Linked DNA regions of Homo sapiens. The protein of the gene in region 1 purifies or fractionates together with the protein of each later gene. This does not show direct contact. Each region holds a gene or a part of one and is shown in the gene's direction. Other genes may lie near its edges.

Region 1 (3,500 bases):
CTTGGGAGGCTAAGGTGGGAGGATCACCTGAGCCTGGGGAGGTTGAGGCTGTGGTAAGCAATAATGGCACCACTGCACTCCAGCTTGGGTGACAGAGTGAGACCCCATCTCAAAAAAAAAAAAAAAAAAGAGTGTAAACATTTAATATTTCAGATATTTGAGTAATAAGTTAGTAAGTTATGGTAAATGAACTTCATAAGAAATTGCAACAAATTTTTACTGAGCATTTCTAGCATCTGTTTTTAACTTTGTTATACTTTTTGATGCTTTTAGTGGATTTTCCAGAGATCTGTTTGGTTTTTTGTTAGAGTCCTCACCTTGGTTTCATCTCTGATATTTTCTTTTTCTTTTTTTTTTAATTTAAAACTCATATATTTTTAAGCCTTTGTTTTAAAACATCTCATGTTGGCCAGGTGTGGTGGCTCATGCCTGTAATCCCAACACTTTGGGAGGCCGAGATGGGTGAATTACTTGAGGTCAGGAGTTTGAGACCAGCTTGGCCAACATGGTGAAACCCCATCTCTACTAAAAATACAAAAATTAGCCAGGCGTGGTGGCAGGTGCCTGTAATCCCAGCTACTCAGGAGGCTGAGGCAGGAGAATCGCTTGAACCTGGGAGGCAGAGGTTGTAGTGAGCTGAGATCATGCCACTGCGCTCTAGCCTGGGCAGTAGAGCGAGACTCAGTCTCAAAAAAATAATCTCGTGTTAATTTTGCTGCTGCTTTTTTTTGTCTCTCCATAATTAAAACTTAACGTATTGTAGCAAATATCTACTTCTGATACTAGTTTTTTTAATTGAATTTATCAACATATGTAGAAATTAGTATTATTTAACCTCTTGACTAGCTGTTCTCTAAAAATAAGTCTAAATGCTAGGACATCCTTACTTATTATATATAGAAAATGTGACTTTCAAATGTGGGTCATCTTAAGTATGCTCTCATTGGAGACAAGACTTGTGAGTATTATGCTTCATGTGTGATGGTGTAGTTTTCCAGTATACTTTAAGATTGAAAATGTTGCTCAGGAGACAATTTTAAAGGATGGGTTATTTGCCTATATCTTAATTTTTTATAACTCTACAAATTCTCATTCACCTTGGTGAGGCATATGTAGAAACAGTTTAAATTCTTATTCAGGCATATGTAGATAGAAGTTTGTGCTATTTATTAGTTGGTGTATGTATGCATTATTATAGAGTAATAAAGAATCATTTTATTTTTTGCTTCTTTCATTATGCTTTATAGTACTTACATTTATCATTTTGATATTTAGTGCAAAGAAATGTGCTGCATGCATTGAGCATTTTTCTACAAGTTTTTTTCCCCCTGATGTGCTATTTCACATATCACAGGCCTTATTTTTTGAACAATTGAGCAAAAGAAACAGATGAAACCTCATACAAAACCCTCCAAAATATGAAAATGTGGGGTTTATTTGTGCTAATGCTCTTCTTTTGGAAACATTTGTGTTAAAGGTAAGGTCAATTTATTGATTTAAACCACATTGTATGTAAAAATGTATTATCCATGATTAAACTTTCTAAGACATTGTTCTTGATAGAAAAGATTTTCTAACTTGTGGAATAAAAAGATTTATTTTGCAAGTGTCAGAAATATTAAAATTAATTATTCCCAAGTTTTCTTAAATATTATGCAAAACTTTGATCTACAGCTTTGACATAATTTTCTAGGATCTTATGGTTGGTGATGAGGCAAGTGAATTACGATCAATGTTAGAAGTTAACTACCCTATGGAAAATGGCATAGTACGAAATTGGGATGACATGAAACACCTGTGGGACTACACATTTGGACCAGAGAAACTTAATATAGATACCAGAAATTGTAAAATCTTACTCACAGAACCTCCTATGAACCCAACCAAAAACAGAGAGAAGATTGTAGAGGTGAGTTTTTATGCAGGATATGCATATGTGTATTTCTGTGATATTATGTTAAATCAAAAATTTTCTTACTGTTGCTATGGATAAAGAGAATAAAAATAATTGTTTTCCTTCAGATCTTATTAAGTATCTACTATATGCTAGTCATTATTCTAAGTAGGAAAGTAGGATAGATCAGTAAACAAAAAATCCTACTGCCATGGAGTGTATATATTCTAACAGGGAAAAACAGACCAAAAAAATTAAGTTTTTAATTTAGTGAGTTAATTAAGTTAATTAAGTTTTTATGGAGGAGCCAGCAGAAGGAGACTGAAAAGGCTAATACAATAAGCAGTTACAGAGTTAATTAAATGGTTTGTTAGAAGGTGAGTGATCCAGTTGACCCATGAGCAATGCAGGGGTTAGGGGCACCAACCCTCCCTACTCACGTGCAAACTTAACTACCACCCAAAATACTTAACTTCTAATAGCCTACTGTTGACCAGAAGCCTTACTGATAACATAATATGTATTATATACTATATTCTTAACAATAAAGTAAGCTAGAGGAAATACTGTTAAGAAAATCATGGCCGGGCGCGGTGGCTCACGCCTGTAATCTCAGCACTTTGGGAGGCGGAGGCGGGCAGATCACAAGGTCAGGAGATCGAGACCATCCTGGCTAACACAGTGAAACTCCGTCTCTACTAAAAATACAAAAAATTAGCCGGGCGTGGTGGCGGGTGCCTGTAGTCCCAGCTACTCAGGAGGCTGAGGCAGGAGAATGACGTGAACCCTTGAGGCAGAGCTTGCAGTGAGTGGAGATCGTGCCACTGCACTCCAGCCTGGGCGACAGAGCGAGACTCCGTCTCAAAAAAAAATAAAAAATCATAAGAGAAAATACATTTACTATACCTTAAGTGGATGTAGATCATCATAAAGATCTTCATCGTCATTGTCTTCACACCGACGAAGAAGAGGAGGGGTTGGTCTTGCTGTCTCGGGTGGCAGAGACAGAAGAGGTGCAAGGGGAGGCAGGAAAGATTTATTGACAAAAATCGTGTATAAGTGGACCTGTGTGGTTCAAACTTGTTGTTATTCATGGATCAGCTGTAGATGCTAAAGGCAAAATAAATCAGGTTAACGGGGAGTGGGAGGTTGTAATTGTACATAGGTTGTGAGAAGGTGATGTTTAAACAGACAGGGTAAGTGAGTTAGCCAGGGTATATAGGAGAATGGTATTCCAGATAAAGGGAGTAGCCAGTGTAAAGGTCTTAAGTTAGGAACAAGCTTGGTATATTAAAGAATAAGCAAGGAAGCCAGTGTGGTTGAGGAGAGAGCAACAGAAGATGAGGTCGAGTAAGTAATATTGGTGCCTTGTAGGCTCTAATTAGGAATTGGGCGGCTGGAAGTGGTGGTTCAGGCCTGTAATCCCAGCACTTCTGGGAGGCCGAGGTGGGCGGATCACGAGGTCAAGAGTTCGAGACCAGCCTGACCAACATAGTGAAACGCCATCTCTACTAAAAATACAAAAATTAACTGGGCATAGTGGTGCGTGCCTGTAATCCCAGCTACTTGGGAGGCTGGGGCAGGAGAATCGCTTGAACCCAGGAGG
Region 2 (3,500 bases), on another chromosome or scaffold:
AAGAAATATGGTATCTTTCAATTTGTATGAATCCCTTTTGAAGGAAATATATTTCAGATTCCAAGTATTGACCTAAGTTATATTCAATCTAATATTACTTAAATTCAATAGTACTCTTAAATAATTGTGAAACTCAGTAGATTTACTCTTTAAATACAATTAAGTCTACAAAAATCCCCAAACTCACATTAGCAACATTATATTGATGTGAAACAATCTAATTTGCTGTTATCAGTTTACTGTAGTTTAAACTACAAGGACATTTATTATTGATAGGATGTTCCAGGGTTCATTCAGTTGCTAAACAATTTCATTCAGGACCCAGGCTGTTTGCATCCTTTCTTTTGCCATCCTTAGAATGGTGGCTTTTCCTTCTCTTGCTTGTCACCTTATGGTTGCAGGATGGCTGCTGCCACTCTACTTCTATCTTATCTTTACAAATAAAAAGAAGCGGGGGCCAAAGTCCTTTCCTAGCTAAGCTTGTCTTTTAATTTTTTCCCAGAAATGCAAGCTCCCCAACAGATTTTTCCCTTAAGTCTTATTGTCCAGAACTGTTCACATACCCATCCTAAAACCAATCACTGGCAGTAGGGAATGGGATTAACTATGACTGGTTTAGACCAATTTTGATTCATTCCCTTGGACTGGAGGAGAGACAACAAGAGATCTCCACTAGCTGCTCAAACAAAAGTATTACAATTCTGTTAGGGAAGAGAGAGTGGGAAGTGGGCAGGTAATGTCTGGAATAGAGAATAAACAGCATCTGGCCCAAATCCTGAGGTTAACAAGTGGAGAAGCCTAATCTTCTGATTTCAACTTCCCTACTGTTTTCATTGCAGTGTAAGTATAGGAAGTAATAATCCCACCCCCAACTCCCCTGCCCCTTATTGCCAGATTTCAGCCCCTTGACATTCATTTCAGAACTTCTGAGTAAAAGTCCGTTTTTCCATTGTTGCTTATTGCCAGCAAATCTATTTCTTCTTAGTATCTCCAAAATTGGGTAATTTGCTCTTTTGTTTTATTTTAAACCTAATGAGCCTTCCATGTTATGCTACTTGATGTCAGATTTCAGAAAACATCTCTAGTTGTTTGGGAAAGACTGTTTCCTTCAAACTACAAAATAGTTTTTTTTTTTTTAAGAGAAGAAACTTTTAATTAATAGTTCTATTAAGAGGGTGGCCACACTTAGATATTCTTCAAATACAATATTGATTACAAGTTACAGGTATATTCTACCAATATATTTTGAAGATTGAATAAGAGATTATATTGAAAATTCCAATCATTTCAAACCACACCGGAAGACCGAAGTTGTTTACTTATCAGTCCTTTTCCTATATGCTTCTGTGTGTGTTTTTGGCCATAGACTTTTTCCAGGTTTAAGTAGACATCCTCTCTCTGCCACTAACAAGTTGTATGACTCTGGTCAGTTTCTCTTCCTGGGCCTCGTTATCATGGAAAGAAAGAACGCTTTGGCACCTGACGTACTTGTTTAAATCCAAGCTCCCCAGCCTGGGCAACATAGGAAAAACTTGTCTGTACTAAAACAAAACAAAACAACCAGGCATGGTGGTGCGCACCTGTTAGTCCCAGCTACTTGAGAGACTGAGATGGGAGAATCACTTGAGCCTGGGAGTTTGAGGTTGCAGTGTGCTGTGATCGTGCCACTGCACTCCAGCCTGGGAGACAGAATGAGACCCTATCTCTAAAAATAGTAATTATAAAATAAAAAGTCAAATCCAAGCTCCGGTGCTACCAAAAATGGCTCTGGGAAAGTTATTTAGTATTTCTGAGTCACCTTAAAATGAGAATACTTTAATGGTACTGTTCAAAACCATGCTTGGTACGTAATAAACACCTAGTTGTTTCCTTTCATAAAGTAAGATTTGAGTTAGATGATCTCTAACAGCATGATTCATGATGTAGTTTTTAGAATCCTGAAGTCTGCTGCTTAATGGCATGCCTTGGAGTAAGGAACACTTCAGACCTACCACAACCCTCAGCCAGCCATCTGGTTGCTTTCTTTTCATTCTCTTCAAAGTACTGCTAATAAGGACATTTTAAAAACAGTGGTGCCTTGATTTAAATAGCTGGCTGCAATTAAACTTCAGTATTTAGCCTCCACTACCAGACTCCTAGACTTTGACAGAATTTGTGACAACAAGTGATTAAGACTGCTACTGTGCCCATTCATGACTCATCAATAACTCTCTTAACAGACTTAAGCAGCCTAGATGTTGATGTGTTATTCCTATTTAGATTTGAGACATTCATGTAAAAACATACAACTTACATTTCTTGGTTATTGTTCTCTAGGCAAGGAAGGTTTTTCCTCCTTCCCTTTCTCCCCTTTCTCTCCTTCCTCCTGGCTTTCCTTAGGATTTGATCATATAATTTTGTTGGTTTTGGTCATTATCTCCTAGTAGGCATATCACATTGTAGACAAGCAGAACATTCTCTATTCTCCTTAGTCCTCTGAATTGTAATTATTGGTCAACTGTGTATTCCTCAAAACTGTTGAGGTTCATAAGGGTAGGAATTGTGTCTGAATTTTGCTGGTGCTTAGAATGCTGTCTCCTTTAGTGCTAACTGAACGAGAAACCCAAATCCTGGCCTATTTAACCCCGTTCTATAAGAACAACGTTATTTCCCCATCAGTTCCCTTAAGATGGTATAACTAGGGCTATACTGCCTTTCTCCTAAAAGCGGTTATACTTCATAGAATAATAGAATCTCTATTTCAATACCAGCTTTTAGGTAAAATGTATTGTGTTTACAATATGTTACTTTGAGATTTAAAATAATTATATGGTCGAAACTCTTGTAATAGGTCTTGTAATAGGCTTGTAATAGGTCTCATGATATGTACAGATTCAGGCTTGTTACTTTTATTTTATCAAAATTTGACAATTTATGTCTTCCTCTTTGATTCCCCAAACCTGAAAGCAAGTCCACTATTATAAGACAGCAAATGTCAATTAGCAATTATTTTCACACTAGCCTTATTTTATAGTATTCAATTTTTCTGCCCTTGCCCAATTTATCACTTATTCTCTAAGAGCGAAGACTATTTTCCAAGCACCTTCACCAAGTTTAGGGACCAGAGCAAGTGGTCCACCATTAAAGGCTAGTGTTAAAAGCGCTCCAAAGTCATGTCCTAAGCAGTGGTAATTTCCTAAGTGTTTCTTGCACTTAACAATTGCCAAGTTTATTTTGTTGGCAATGCCTTCCATTTTCTTCACTTTTTTTTTTTTTTTTTTTTTTTTTGAGACGGAGTCTCGCTTTGTCGCCCAGGTCGGACTGCGGACTGCAGTGGCGCAATCTCGGCTCACTGCAAGCTCCGCTTCCCGGGTTCACGCCATTCTCCTGCCTCAGCCTCCCGAGTAGCTGGGACTACAGGCGCCTGCCACCGCGCCCGGCTAATTTTTTTTTTGTATTTTTAGTAGAGACGGGGTTTCACCTTGTTAGCCAGGATGGTCTCGATCTCCTGACCTCATGAT
Region 3 (3,500 bases), on another chromosome or scaffold:
TGGTGGCTGCAGGGTATGCCATTGTGTGGCTGTCCAGTACCATTACTGGAGTTCCGTGCTGGGAGCCATTTGCAGGGTACGTCCCCTCAGCTCCTGCTGCCCGAGGCGGTGGTGCCACTGCCCTTCCCAGGACAGGAGGGGATGGACTCGCTCGCCCTCTGTGGAGCCACTCCAAAGTGGTTCCTTGTTACAGTCTACCAGAGTGGCACATTTATTACAATCGATGAACCTACATGGACACCTCATTGTCACCCAGAGTCCATAGTTGACACTGGGGCGCACTCTTGATGCTGTATGTACTATGGGTTTGGACAACTGTATCATGACATGGATCCATACTGTAGTATTCTACAGAGGAATCTCGCTGCCCTACAAATCCTCTGTGCTCCCGCTAGTCATCCCACCCCTGAGCTTTTTACTGTCTCCATAGTTTTGCCTTTTCCAGAATGTCATATGCTTGGAACCATGCAATCTGCAGCCTTTTCCGACTGGCTTCTTTGGCTTAGTAATCTGCTTTTAAGGTTCTTCCATGTCTTTTCTTGGCTTGATAGCTCATTTCTTTTTAGCGCTGAATAAGCGTAACTTTTTTAAGGGAGATGTGTGGGCTGCAGTGATGACTTTGGCTTTCTTTCCAAAAATGACGGCAGCCATACTGTGATCCCTGCCCCCAACTGCTGCACAGAGAAGAGGGTGAATGCGGCGAGGGTGGGTGGAAGGTGGGCGGTGAGCTGGGGGGTTATGGTGATAACCTAGGCAAGAGATCAAGGTTGTGGTAGGGAGCAGTGGTTCTCAAACAGGGACAATCGTGTCCTCCACAGGACATTTAGACAAATGTCTGGAGACATTTTTAGTTGTCGCAGCTGGGAGAGAGGGACTATTGGCATCTACTGGGTAGAGGCCAGGGATGCTGCTCAACATCCTGCAATGCACAGGACGGGCCTCCCAACCCAGAATGATCTGGCCCCAGATACCAACCGTGCCCAGGTGGAGAAACCCTGGCGTAAAGGGGACAGGTCTCTCCTGGGTACATTTTGAAGGTAGAGCTGACAGGCCTTGCTTACAGATTGAATGAGAGGAGTCTTTGTGTTTTCCAGTCCATGCATGCCTGTTCTTTTTTCTTTCTTTAATTAAATAACATCTGGCTGGGCGTGGTGACTCATGCCTATAATCTCAACATTTTGGGAGGCCGAGACAGGTGGATCACTTGAAGCCAGGAGCTCAAGACCAGCCTGGCCAACATGGTGACACCCTGTCTCTACTAAAAATACCAAAAAATTAGCCAGGCATGGTGGGGCATGCCTGTAATCTCGGCTACTCGGTAGGTTGAGGCATAAAAATTGCTTGAACCCGAGAGACGTATGTCGCAGTGAGCCAACTGCCACTGCACTCCAGCCTGGGCGACAGAGCGAGACTCTGTCTCAAAAATGAAATAAAATAAACTAAAATAAATAAATATGTAACCCAATATGTCCAAACTATTATAATTTCAATGTGTAATTAATATGGACTATTAATGAGACACTGTATTTTTTGTCATGCTAAGTCTTCAAAACCTAGTGTGTGCATTTTACAAATGAAGCACATCGCAACATGCTGAGTTTTCAGGGGTAGTGTGGAGTGCGCCAGAGCAACAACGTTGTGTGTGTTTTTCTTTTTTTGGTTTTCTTTTTGTGTGTGTGTGAGATGGAGTTTCGCTCTTTTTGCTCAGGCTGGAGTGTAATGGCGCAATCTCGGCTCACTGCAACCTCCACCTCCCGGGTTCAAATGATTCTCCTGCCTCAGCCTCCCTAGTAGCTGGGATTACAGACGCACGCCACCACGCCCAGCTAATTTTGTATTTTTAGTAGAGACGGGGTTTCACCATGTTGGTCAGGCTGGTCTCGAACTCCTGACCTCAAGTGATCTGCCCACCTCGGCCTCCCAAAGTGCTGGGATTACAGGCATGAGCCACCGCGCCCAGCCAACGTTGTGTTTAATGGAAAATATTTTACACTGCTTCAGTTTTTCACCTTAAGTTTAAATGAATGGAACTTAAATGAAATGAACAACTCTTTTCCTTAGTTGCACTGGCCACATATCAGGTGTTTAGTGGCCACAAGCTACTAGCAGCTTCTGTCCTTCTTGGCCAGCACAGGCCTAGAGCCTACCCAGGAGGGGGCACCTTACTGGAGGTGCACTCCAAAGGTCAGTTCTCATCCTGCTGGGAGTCCTTCCAGAGTTCTCATTGCCCTCTGGATAAAGGTCATGCATGCTGTGTAGCCTGGCTCTTTAGGCCTCAGTTTCCTCATCTGTAAAATAGAATTCTGAAAGCACACACTTCCAGGATAATTGTGAGGATTAAAAGATGTTGCGGACTGGGGACGGTGGCTCACGCCTGTAATCCCAGCACCTTGGGAGGCTGAGGCAGGTGGATTATGAGGTCTGGAGTTCAATACCAGCCTGGCCAACATGGCAAAACCCTGTCTCTACTCAAAATACAAAAATTAGCTGGGTGTAGTGGTGCATACCTGTAATCCCAGCTACTCGGGAGTCTGAGGCAGGAGAATAGCTTGAGCCTGGGAAGCAGAGGTTGCAGTGAGCCAAAATGGTGCCACTGCACTCTAGCCTGGATGATAGAGCAAGACTCTGTCTCAAAAAAAAAAAAAAGAGAGAGATGACACAGCCGGGCGCAATGGCTCATGCCTGTAATCCCAGCACTTTGGGAGGCCCAGGCAGGTGGATCACTTTAGGTCAGGAGCTTGAGACCAACCTGGCCAACATGGTGAAACCCTGTCTCTACTATATATACAAAAATTAGCCGGGTGTGGTGGCAGGTTACTATAATCCCAGCTACTTGGGGGGCTGAGGCTGAAGAATAGTTTGAACCTGCGAGCGGAGGTTACAGTGAGCCAAGATTGCTCCACTGCACACTCCAGCCTGGGCAACAGAACGAGAGTCCATCTCAAAATGAAATAAATAAGTAAATAAATAAAATAAAAAAATTAAAAAAGATGATGCTTCCATCAATGGAGGAATGGATAAAATATGGTATATCCATACAATGGAATGTTATTCAGCCATGAAAAAGAATGAAGTGCTGATACCACTTACGACATGAATGAACCTGGAAAACATCATGCTGAGTGAAAGCAGTCAGACACAAAAGGTCACGTATTTTATGGACACATTTATATTAAATGTCTGGGACAGGTAAATCCATAAAGGAAGAAAGTATATCTGTGGTTGCAGGGGCCAGAGGGAAGGGAAATTGGGAATGACTGCTCATAGGTTTCCTTTGGGGGGTGATGAAAATTTCCTAGAGTTAGTGGTGATGGTTATACAACCCTGTGAATATCTTTAAAAGGCTGAACTGTGTGGATTGTGAATTATATCTCAAAAGCATACTTCAAAAAAAGATAATGCTTGCATATGCAGGCCCATGGCAAGGGATGATAGTGGTTGGTGGTGATGATGGTGACGATGATTGACGATAATTATATTGTTAATGGTAGTGATGATGA
Region 4 (3,500 bases), on another chromosome or scaffold:
AAATTACGCTCCTGTGTGATATTTTCCTGGGCCACATCACAGATTACTGAAAAGATACTTCATGCTACGGACCACAGAAAAGTTTGTCAGGACATAGGTGTGAGTACTCCTGGGAGACCTTGCCTAGCCCCCTGCATCTGGCTGTCCCTGTTCCTGGCACTGCCCCAGTGGCTGCTGCCTCCTCCTTAAAAAAGAGAAAGTTCTCCATGACTGGAGACACTCAAGATGCTAAGATGTCACAGAGTTAGCTTCCCCTGAACAGGAGGCTCCCGTCCTATTCAGTCAGAAGGAAAGAAATGCGAGAGTCTGGATGAGGCAGCCATCTGGGGTATTTTGTGACTTGGTTTAGTTCAGGACATTTTCTGTCTTGTAGAGAACAGGGTCCCTCTTTGTCCATGAAACCCTGTCCGTGCAGCCCAGTTGCTGAGGCAAGCTCCTACCAAAGTACTTGCTGAGCCAACCGTTCATTCATTGAGCAAACTTCCAGGGAGTACCTGCTGAGTGCCAGGTGTGGTGCTTGGGGATGGGGATTATAGCAGAGAACAACTACAGAAAATGTTCCTGCTCTTACGGAGTTTACATTGTAGTTAGGGGATTCAGACAATAACCAAATAAGCACATGTGTTAGGTGGGGGTAGATGATGGGAAGAAAACAAGCAAGAAGAGGTGTGATATAGAAGTGCTTGAAAGGAATTAGGCTAACATTGTTTCAGCCAATATTAGGCACAGATTAAGACAGGAATGAACCCCAAAAAGCACCTGTGGGTGGAGGAATCAGACAGGACAGAGTTTGAATCCTGGCTGAACCACTCAACTTTCAGTGTATGGCCTTCGGTAAGTCCCTTAACTCTCAAAGCTTCAGTTTACTCTTTTTGTTTTTTGAGATGGAGCCTCGCTCCGTTGCCCACACTGGAGTGCAATGGCGCGATCTCGGCTCACTACAACCTCCGCCTCCTGGCTTGAAGTGATTCTCCTGCCTCAACCTCCTGAGTAGCTGGGATTACAGGTGCCCACCACCACACCCGGCTAATTTTTGTATTTTTAGGAGAGATGGGGTTTCACCATATTGGCCAGGATGGTCTCAATCTCTTAACCTTGTGATCCGCCCACCTTGCCCTCCCAAAGTGCTGGGATTACAAGCGTGAGCCACTATGCCCGTCCCAGTTTACTTTTTCTTTTCTTTTCTTTTCTTTTTTTTTTTTTTTTTTTTTGAGACGGAATCTTGCTCTGTCGCCCAGGCTGGAGTGCAGTGGTACGATCTCGGCTCACTGCAACCTCCGCCTCCCTGGTTCAAGTGATTGTCCTGCCTCAGTCTCCCAAGTAGCTGGGATTACAGGCACCTGCCACCATGCCTGGCTAATTTTTGTATTTTTAGTAGAAACAAGGTTTTGCCATGTTGGCCAGGCTGTTCTCGAACTCCTGACCTCAGGTGATCCGCCTGCCTCCGCCTCCCAAAGTGCTGGGATTACAGGCAGGAGCCACCGTGCCTGGCCCAGTTTACATTTCTCTAAAATGGGACCAGAGCTGGGTGTGGTAGCTCATGCCTGCAATCCCAGCATTTTGGGAGGCTGAACAGGAGGATGGCCTGAGGCCAGGAGTTCAAGACTAGCCTGGGTAACATAATAAGACCCATCTCTGCAAAAAATAAAAATTAGCTTGGGTGTGGTGGCGTATGCCTGTAATTCCAACTACTTGGGAGGCTGAAACTTGGACCTAGGAGTTCCTGGCTGCACTGAGCCGTGATTTCACCACTGCACTTCAGCCTGGGTGACAGACCAAGACCCTGTCTCAAAAAAAAAAAAAAAAAGTCGGGGGGTAGGGGGTGGGTACTAGTAATACTTCCCTGGCAGGGCCTTGAGGGCATTCGTGAAAATATATGGAAAGCCCTTGTCACAATGCCTGGCACATAGTGGTGCTTTATCATTAGGAACTGGAATGATTAAATTCTGTCAAAGACAGTTTTAATGTAATAGGAAGGGGGTGGCACAGGTGGAGTGTTGGAGTAGGGGGTGGTTTGCAGTTAATGGAATTTTATCAGCCTTTCCCATTTGTGTAGTCTGGGCAGGTTAGGATTTCCGGGGTGGCTTGAAGGTGGGGCCGGAGGCTTGGGAGGGACCTATGGATATCTGCAGGGAGGGCGTGACCAAGGCTGCCTGGATGACGGCGGGGGATGGTGGAATATATCTCCCCCTGCCCTCTCCACCTGCATGTCCCAGGTCCAGCCCTGCCCAAGTTCTATCATTTCCCCACAGCGAAGGGGCAGAACTCAGGCACCTCGACACTCAGGTCCAGCGCTGTGAGGACATCCTGCAGCAGCTGCAGGCCGTGGTACCCCAGATAGACATGGAAGGGGATCGCAACATCTGGATCGTGAAGCCAGGAGCCAAGTCCCGCGGACGAGGTGGGGGTCAGCTCCTGCTTCCTGCACTGGCACCTCACCACCTGCATCTACCAGTAGAGGCCAAGGAAGTTAATAGTGCAGGTCTATTGAAGCCAAATTGCCTGGGTTTGAGTCCTAGCTCTGCTACTAATGTGCTTCGTGACCTTGAGCAGGTTTTAGCGCCTCCCTGAACCTCAGTTCCCTCATCTGTGACATGAGGAGGATGATAATACCTCCTGTGAGGTGAGGATTAAATGCAGTCATGCAGCTAAAGCACTATTCCAAATCCTCAACGTGCTTCAATTTATGCAATCCTGGGAAACGGAGGCACGTGTAGGCTTTCACATGATCCAGAAGGATATCCATAAGGTCCTGGAAGCAGCAGTTGGCTGCCTCTAGACAAGGAGATACATTTTTTATTGTATGCCCTTTCGTACTGCCTAATTTTTGTTTTGTTTTATAGTCTATTTATTATTGGTAGGAACGTAATAGGTGCACATACTTTAAAAAAGCCCCCAACACTGGCCAGGTACAGTGGCTCATGCTTGTAATCCCAGCAGTCTGGGAGGCCGAGGCGGGTGGATCACTTGAGGTCAGGAGTTGGAGACCAGCCTGGCCAACATGGTGAAACCCTGTCTCTACTAAAAATACAAAAATTGGCCACGTGTGGTGGCAGGCACCCATAATCCCAGCTACTCGGGAGGCTGAGGCAGGAGAATCACTTGAACCCGGGAGGCGGAGGTTGCAGTGAGCTGAGCTCGTGCCACTGCACTCCAGCCTAGGTGACAGGGCTGTCTCAAAAAAAAAAAAAAAAAAAAAAAGTCCAGCACTTTAAATTTGTATCCATGTATGTATTCCTGTTTAATCAAACAAAACTGGTTAATTAGGAAAAATTTAAAATCCTTAGCAAATTCCTGGCTTTCCCAAAGGGAACTGGGTTCTGATTGAGGGAGACAGCCTTACCCACTCAGCCCTATCAGCTCCGAGGGGACAAGAGCTCATGACAAGCTGGCCCTTCTCCTGGCCCACGCCTGACCTTCCAATCCCTGACTGCCCTCTTCCCCCGTAGGCATCATGTGCATGGACCACCTGGAGGAGATGCTGAAGCTGGTGAACGGCA

What was found. The genes of interacting proteins can lie anywhere in the genome.
Region 2: the proteins of ACTR2 (region 1) and PPME1 fractionate together in Homo sapiens (co-fractionation; one large-scale study listed by BioGRID). This does not show direct contact.
Region 3: the proteins of ACTR2 (region 1) and HSPBP1 fractionate together in Homo sapiens (co-fractionation; 2 studies listed by BioGRID). This does not show direct contact.
Region 4: the proteins of ACTR2 (region 1) and ARPC4-TTLL3 purify together in Homo sapiens (affinity purification with mass spectrometry; 2 studies listed by BioGRID, with this or other methods). This does not show direct contact.

Annotation. Positions count from the first base shown.
Region 1 is NC_000002.12:65,244,831-65,248,330, forward strand, and holds part of ACTR2 (actin-related protein 2), read left to right. Parts: intron 1-1,693; coding exon 1,694-1,909; intron 1,910-3,500. UniProt on the Homo sapiens protein: ATP-binding component of the Arp2/3 complex, a multiprotein complex that mediates actin polymerization upon stimulation by nucleation-promoting factor (NPF).
Region 2 is NC_000011.10:74,177,789-74,181,288, forward strand, and holds part of PPME1 (protein phosphatase methylesterase 1), read left to right. Parts: intron 1-3,500. UniProt on the Homo sapiens protein: Demethylates proteins that have been reversibly carboxymethylated. Demethylates PPP2CB (in vitro) and PPP2CA. Binding to PPP2CA displaces the manganese ion and inactivates the enzyme.
Region 3 is NC_000019.10:55,266,611-55,270,110, reverse strand, and holds part of HSPBP1 (hsp70-binding protein 1), read left to right. Parts: intron 1-3,500. UniProt on the Homo sapiens protein: Inhibits HSPA1A chaperone activity by changing the conformation of the ATP-binding domain of HSPA1A and interfering with ATP binding. Interferes with ubiquitination mediated by STUB1 and inhibits chaperone-assisted degradation of immature CFTR.
Region 4 is NC_000003.12:9,823,548-9,827,047, forward strand, and holds part of ARPC4-TTLL3 (ARPC4-TTLL3 fusion protein), read left to right. Parts: intron 1-2,252; coding exon 2,253-2,401; intron 2,402-3,449; coding exon 3,450-3,500. Other genes in the region: tubulin monoglycylase TTLL3, read left to right, coding at 2,253-2,401, 3,450-3,500.